2 linked regions of the Homo sapiens genome follow. The protein of the gene in region 1 purifies or fractionates together with the protein of each later gene. This does not show direct contact. Each region holds a gene or a part of one and is shown on either strand. Other genes may lie near its edges.

What was found.
Region 2: the proteins of DBH (region 1) and LEMD3 purify together in Homo sapiens (affinity purification with mass spectrometry; one large-scale study listed by BioGRID and IntAct). This does not show direct contact.

What each region holds. Positions count from the first base shown.
Region 1 is NC_000009.12:133,642,662-133,646,483, forward strand, and holds part of DBH (dopamine beta-hydroxylase precursor), read left to right. Parts: intron 1-751; coding exon 752-928; intron 929-1,556; coding exon 1,557-1,659; intron 1,660-3,822. UniProt on the Homo sapiens protein: Catalyzes the hydroxylation of dopamine to noradrenaline (also known as norepinephrine), and is thus vital for regulation of these neurotransmitters.
Region 2 is NC_000012.12:65,175,899-65,179,720, forward strand, and holds part of LEMD3 (inner nuclear membrane protein Man1), read left to right. Parts: intron 1-3,822.

The sequences.
Region 1 (3,822 bases):
CTCAAAGGGCCTTGGAGCTCCCACTTCCCTGCCTGGACCAAAGTGACCAACATCTTGACTTCTGCATCTTTCCTTGGGACTGGAACTGCTGTCTGTCTGCCAGGCCACCTCCCCCTTCATGAAAAAGCAGCTCGAGTCAGAACTCACTTGCTCTCGAACACCCGTCCGGGGAAGACAGAATAGCAAAGGCGATAGCTGTCGAGTGTCCACTATGCCACTAGTCCCGGGGGAGGGGCGAGGTGATCCCTCCTTCATCATAAGAGCCCCTAGTTTCCAGCAGAGGAAGTGTGGCCCAGGGAGGTTGAGTGTCCAGGGTCACATAGCAAGAAGGGGCATGTCCTTGAAGGTGCACTCAGAGAGGTTATGTGAGTGTCCAGAGTCACACAGCAGGAAGAGGCATGGCCTTGAAGGTGCGCTTTGGGCCCGGGCTCTAACCTCAGGGCTGCCCTGCCTCCCACTGGGGCTGCAGGAGCTGGCCCGGCCACAGCCCCATATGCATGAGGACGGCTGCGTCCTGTCCCTGCCTTGGCCTGTACGAACCTCATTTCCTTCACTCTGGAGCTGCCTACGGGATTTCTTTCTGGGCTGATGGCTCCACCCTCAAGGCTGTGAACCCCAGAAGTGCCCCTGAAATTGTCTGGATCATCCCTCCCATTTTACAGATGGGCATTCGGAAGCCCATGGAGGAGGGCTGCTGGGGAGGGGAGGGTGGGCGGCCGGTTCCCGGGCTCAGAGGGCTGCCTCCTCACAGTACGAGCCCATCGTCACCAAGGGCAATGAGGCCCTTGTCCACCACATGGAAGTCTTCCAGTGCGCCCCCGAGATGGACAGCGTCCCCCACTTCAGCGGGCCCTGCGACTCCAAGATGAAACCCGACCGCCTCAACTACTGCCGCCACGTGCTGGCCGCCTGGGCCCTGGGTGCCAAGGTGCGTGCCCTGCGACCCCAGCATGGTGTCTCCTGCCTGGGCCCCTGGCATCCCCACACCTCTGTTTCCCCAGCTTCACCGTCTCAGAGGCTTCAAGAAGGGGCTCCCAAGGGGGCTCACGAGGCCACCAGAAGGGCCAGGCCTGAGGTGGCCCCCTCGCCTCTGTGATGTCTGAAATGCTTCAAGCCTTTTTTTTATTTTCCACAGAAACGCAAGTGCCGCAGGACCTTATGCCCTCAGTGGGTCCTGATTCTGTTTCCCAACTGGAGTCAGGGTTTTGTGTACAGGTGGTCCCAGGGCTGGCTGGCGGTGGGGCCAGTGTTGAGGCCTCCACAGGCTGAGACGATGGGGGTCTCCCCAGCTCTTACACCCGTCTAGAGAAGGGGTTTTGGGGGAAGGCTCAGCCCTAGGCACCAGCTCCTCTCCCCAACTCCCTGACCCGAGTCTCACAGGATGTTCCTGGGGCGTGTAATGAGCTGCCTGTCAGGAGGAAGCATCGCTCTAATCCTGCTGCGCCCCCTCCACCACCCCTGAGGCTCAGGCCCCAACAGTTGACTGGGTTTGCCCCTGCCCAGACCTGGGGCCCTCTCAGGACACACCCGTCTGTCTGACACCTTGCCCCACACAGGCATTTTACTACCCAGAGGAAGCCGGCCTTGCCTTCGGGGGTCCAGGGTCCTCCAGATATCTCCGCCTGGAAGTTCACTACCACAACCCACTGGTGATAGAAGGTAGGCGGCTCTGCTGCCATCCTCCTCAGAAGCCCTAGGACTCAGCTGTGTTGAGCCAGTGAGCAAATCCCGCCCTTCGTCTGCCCAGCATGGTGCCCCCGCTGTACAGCTCCTCTTGGCACGAGGCCCTTGCGTCTGCCTCATCCGCTGTCCATCTTCCATGGCTGTGGTGGGCTCCCAGGGACAGGACCTCGAGGGGCTCACTCCTCACAGCTTCGCCAGGGCCCAGCAGTGGCCCCACACCTCCCTCCTCGTCCCTATAATACGGGCTGCCATCGGCGCAGCACTGTGCATCCCAGGGGAAAGGACAAGGAGAATTTTCATAAGGGAAGCTGCCAGATGCCAAGTTCCAAATACAGGGAGAGGTGTGTGCATAAACAGGGAGGTGGTAGTAAAGCAGGGCATATTCCAGGACACAGGCGCTCCGGCCTGGCCAGAGTGCAGGGACGGGAAGGGGAGCTGGGGCAGCTGCTGTTGGATCACCCATACCTGAGGGTGGAGTGAGCAGGGTCAGCTTTTAGCATGGCAAGGCCAGGTGATGCTGTCTCAGAAACTGAAAAAAATACTTCCCTCTCTCTGTTGCACCAGCATCTTTCACCATATATAGACACACACGCACACAATGCACACACACACGCACACACACATGCACACATGTACACATATGCACGCAGAAGCACACACATGCACACACTTTTTCTCTCTCTCTGAATGGTGCTTCTTCTTTTCATTTGTGCAAGGTGCAGAAGTGGCCTAAGAGATAGGTGCTAGGCTGTGCCTCACCACCTTGGGGACGCTGGGTGGATGACCTCACCCGCTGCCTGTTCTCCCACCTCCCACAGCTATTGTGAAGCTGGGAAAGGCTCACGCACAGAACTTGCTGTGGGCACGGGGCTGTGCTCAGCTAACAGTCGCCTGTGGTTTTTTTTTTTTTTCCTGGCTGCATAAGTAATACCTTCCGCCACTGTTGGAGTTATCTCCACATGCACAGAGAAGGGTATAAGTCAGCTTGGGCCTTAGCATGACACGGGATTTATTGCTCATTTAAACCCTGAAAGCAAATGGATTTTTGAAAACTCCTGAAGCATCAGGGAAGTCTGTCTCTTCATGATTATCTGGTTGTATTTATGGATCCTTTGCCAAATATAAGGACGCTCCTGTCACTTCACCCATCTTGAGATGGGCTGCTTTTCTATAAATATCAAAATCCCACAATTATTTCATGATTTAATCCCCATCTGAATTTTAACCAATTGCAACACCCTTTTTATTATTATCCTCTGATGTAATCAGCCTGGAGATACAGGAGCCGTTTGAGTTTGGATGGTGTAGGGGTGTCGAGGGAAGAAGGCAGAGGCAAGAGGAGTTGTTTTGGCCTCATCTTAAAGGAAACAAGTAGGGAGATGGTTGGGCCCCCTGGAAGTGCCCTGCACCCCAGTCCACAGCCCTGGGTTTGAACCTCAGCTTGGCCACTTCCCAGCCCTGTGGTCTTGTGTGGAGTCTTCAGTTCAGGCTCCATCCTCAGTTTCTTAATCTGTGAAATAGGGCTGATGATTCTCACTGTGCAAAACTTCCATGAAAGGGGTAGGTTATGCTTAGAGCATTTTTGGCACCCAGGGAAGATGTTAGTATCTGTACCACCCTCTTGGTTTGATCAGAAAGGGCAATGCATGTACACTGGTGAGAAGATGGACAGCAGAAAAGCATGAAGAAGATGAAACCACCCCCCAGCTCCCGGCTCCAAGTTTTGAAGTGAGCACTGGTCACCCAGCTATGTGTCTGTCCTGACTGCTTTTCTGGCCCATTAATTTTTTTCTTGTGACTAGAATTTTATATCTTTTTTTTTCATTGTTGTTTGTTTTTTTACTTAAACTTCATCAGAAGCCTCTTCCCTGTGAATTAAAACCCCTTGTCAATTTCACACTCCTTGCCGCCTGACATCCCTTTCCTGTACATAACCCAGGGGGCAGAGCCTCCTGCTGCACAGCCCCTCCAGACCACCCCGCCATGTCCGCCATGTCCACCATGTCCACCATGCATCCGGGGGCATGGGGCCAGGCCTTTAGATCCTCCGCCAACCATGAGCCCAGCCGGTACTCAGAGCCTGGCTGCTGATTCACTAGGCATGGAGTTTCAGGAACGGTGGGGCTACCTGGATGACAC
Region 2 (3,822 bases), on another chromosome or scaffold:
CCACCCAGACAGAGCTCAAGAGAGAAACCTTGGATTTACCTAGATTCTTTCCTTTCCCTCACCTTCCTACAAACCCCCAACCTAATTGGATACCAAGTCCTGTAGTTCTGTTTCCTCTATATCTTTTGAATCAATCTTTTTCTGTCCCTCGCCACTGTTCTAGGTTAGTCTCTTGCCTGAACTCTTTCAGTAACCTAAAATGGTGTCCCTGCTTCTAGGCTGTAGCTCTTCCAGTCCATTTGTCAGTACAGAGCAGCGTTTCTAAAGCACAAATGTGATCATTCCCTCTTGCTTAAAATTACACAATGGCTTTCTCTTAGTTATTGGCCAAAATCTAAACTCGTTGGCTAAACTGTTCATGATCTGACTATGCTTGCCCTTTCTACCAGTCTCCCTTATCACACTTACTTTCTAGAAAACTGAACTGTTTGCTGTTTTCTGAGTAAGTCATGAAATTTGTGCTTTTCTACCTTTGCACAGGTTATCCCCTTTTTTGGGAATGTTTCTTTATTTTGTAACTGTGATTCATTCTTAAACATGTCATCTCCAGATATCTCTGACTCTCCATCTTTTTACCCTAGAGTTTGGCCCATCATTTTGTGCTCAAATAAGACATTAATTGCATCCTTCATAGTATTTAGGACAAAGTATTATATTTGTGTGTCCACCATGCCAAATAGATGACAGCTCCTTTCTTTAGAGTAATATTTCTATAGGAGTAGAATACAGTGTTAAAGAGTACAAACTTTTTACTCAGTTCTGATTTTGGCTCTACTTTTTAAAGTAGACTATACTAGAGATATAATTGCCTCATACTAAAAATGAGATTGATAATACTATCTGAGGATGACTTGTATTAAGTGAGATAATGCATCTAAACTAGTGTTGTCTGGCACATGGAAATCTCTTAGTAGATGGAAGTCACATTAGTATCTTCAGCACAGATTCATTATTCAGCAAATATCTGTTGAATAAATGATCACATATCAGGTACTCAGGATATATGCACTGTTAACTGGTAGTATCTAACTCGGTAATTGGTTATCTACTTAGTATCTGGTAAGGATATATAAAAGAAATCTTATTTCTGTAGAAGCCTCCACACCACTAATAACAGTAATAGGAAATGGCTAAGAAACATACAGGATATTATGTGGTTACACACTTTTATAAAAGGGGAGAATTCACTGTAAATTCTCAAATGATCAGTCTTACATGATCAAAAGTTCTAAATTCAACATTTGGATTTTATTCTGTAGGTTGAGTAATGGCAATTCATGGAGGTTATAAAGCAGAGGACAAGCATGATCGAATTGGTCCTTTAAGAAGGATAAACAGGTGATGGTTTAGACAGTGATAGGGTTGGAGGGAAGGAGTAGGGTGATGACACCTGAAGGAGGTGGATAAGTGGGAATGGAGTTGGGCCTATGAATGAAATTCATTTGAAGAAAGACATATGGTTTTGAGTATAGAGAATAAGAGACAGATAGGAGTCAAAGATTATTCTGGCCATGAGCCTGGATGACTGAGAGAATGATAATATCATTGGAGGAATTAGAGATGTGGAAGAGGGATCTTGTTTGGGGAAAAGTGGTCTAGGGAAAATGAGTTTACTTGGGGCTTATTATTTGAGTTGTTCAAGTGAAAAATTCTTGTAGGCTCTTGTAGATACAGAATTGGAGTAAAGATGAGAGACTGGTGCTGAATGTGAGTACTAGTACTGTTTACTAAGGGAATACTTTTAAATGTTTGTTTTTTTAATGTGTTGTTGTTTTCTTTAAAATCAAGACCAGTTGTTACAAAGAAGTAACATGTTTTAATGTCATTGTCGTTTAAAAAATATTTTTACTTCTTAAAGTAGACTAGCCAAAAGGTCCCGAACTTGGTATCTAAAATGAATATGGGGAATAAGGATTTTGAAAAATAGCTGTTGCTCTCATTCTTTTTTTTTTTTTTTCAATATGAGACAGGGTCTTGCTGTGTCACCCAGGTTGGATTGCAGTGGTGTGATCATGGCTTACTGCAGCCTCAACCTCCCAGGACTCAAGCAATCCTCACAGCTCAGCCTCCTGAGTAGCTGGGACTATAGATCTGCATCACCACATCTGGCAAATTTTTTGTATTTTTTGTTGAGACAGGATCTCACTTTGTTGTCCAGGCTGGTCTTGAACTCCTGGGCTCAAGCGATCCTGTCACCTTCGCCTCCCAAAGTGCTGAGATTACAGGTGTCAGCCATAGCAGCCGGCCTATTCTCTCATTCTTGAAGAATGAAAGCTCCATGTTATGTTTGAAGTTTTACGAGTTGACTGCTTTGTAAGAAAAAAAAAAAAATCCTAGATCTATGAGAATATTCCCGTGAATGCCAGGGATTTGCATATACCAGTTTGATGATTTCAGAAATTAAAGTCTACTCTATGAAAATGTTTTTCATTTGAAAATTTTCCCTAGAATGATTTAAATTAAAAATAATGAGGAAAAACTTGTGAATCTCTACAGATATATCCACGGAGACTAGTTTGAGGATACACTGGCATAGCTATCAGAGAACCTGGGCTTCAATATTGGCCCTTCCACTTACTAGCTTTTTTTCACTAAGGCAAGTTGCTTAGCCATTGTAAACCTCAATATCCTCATATGAAAAATAGGTTAAATGAGAATGAAGTAATGTGTGTAAAGTAAAACTCATACATGGCACATAGTAATAATAATAACTAACCCTTACGTAGCATTAACTGTGTTCCAGGCACTGAGCTAAACAATTATTATTTAATCCTTATGAGGTAGGTACTTATCCCATTTTATAAGTAAATGGAGACACTGAGAAGTAACTCGCCCAGGGTCATGTAGCTAGTAAGTGAAGCGGCAGTATTTGAACTCAGACAGTGGCTCTTAACTGTTCTTCTAGATTGCCTTTTAATATGTATAAATAAGGACTTGATATATGTTCTCTACTATTATTGTCTTTATTTTCAGAAAACTGTGACAAGTATAGATTCATAAAATCCTAGAAGTGGCAGGAATAATCTATGAAACCTAACAACTTTAGGAAAAGTTGTATTCATTCAACAATTATGAATCACATGGAACTATTTATCCTTAAGGTTTTAGATTAATTAAGGGGGAGGGGGCATCTGCTATGAAGCAAACTATAATATATAATACATAGAACAATAATACAATATTAAAACTATTTCTAATTTTTAAAATATTTGCAGTCTCAAAACTGGTAGGGAAAGTGATCTTTTGATTTGTATTACCAATTACAACTTGTTCTTTCTGTTGTTCATTTTTAGGATATAAAGAACTTTTCATACATTTGATCTCCCTTTTTTGCTCCTTTTGAATAAACTTCATATTTTCCCTTTATACTCATATATGTTTTAATGGAAATGATGCATTTGATAATTTCAGGGACACTAAAATAATCATGAAAAATTATTTTCATGATTCCTAAGAGTTGGGAAGTTCTTAAAGCTTGCTTCTCCTTGCTCATTGATTATTCAATATTAACTTTCCCTATCTGAAAAATATGTTATATAAATGGAAATTTATAGCCTCAGTGCAAAGATAATTATATAGTTTGTAAGTTGTTTAAAAGAGAAGGACACCTTAAACTGTTGGAACTCTCCAAAATGTATTTGTTAATAAATAAGTACTACTAACTTGTTTGTGAAAATTTTATTACTAATGATATAATCTAAATTCGAATGAAGATATATTCTAGGGGTGGGGAGAATATCAGGAAAAATAGCTAATGCATGCTGGGCTTAATACCTAGGTGATGGGTTGATAGGTGCAGCAAACTGCCATGGCACGCGTTTA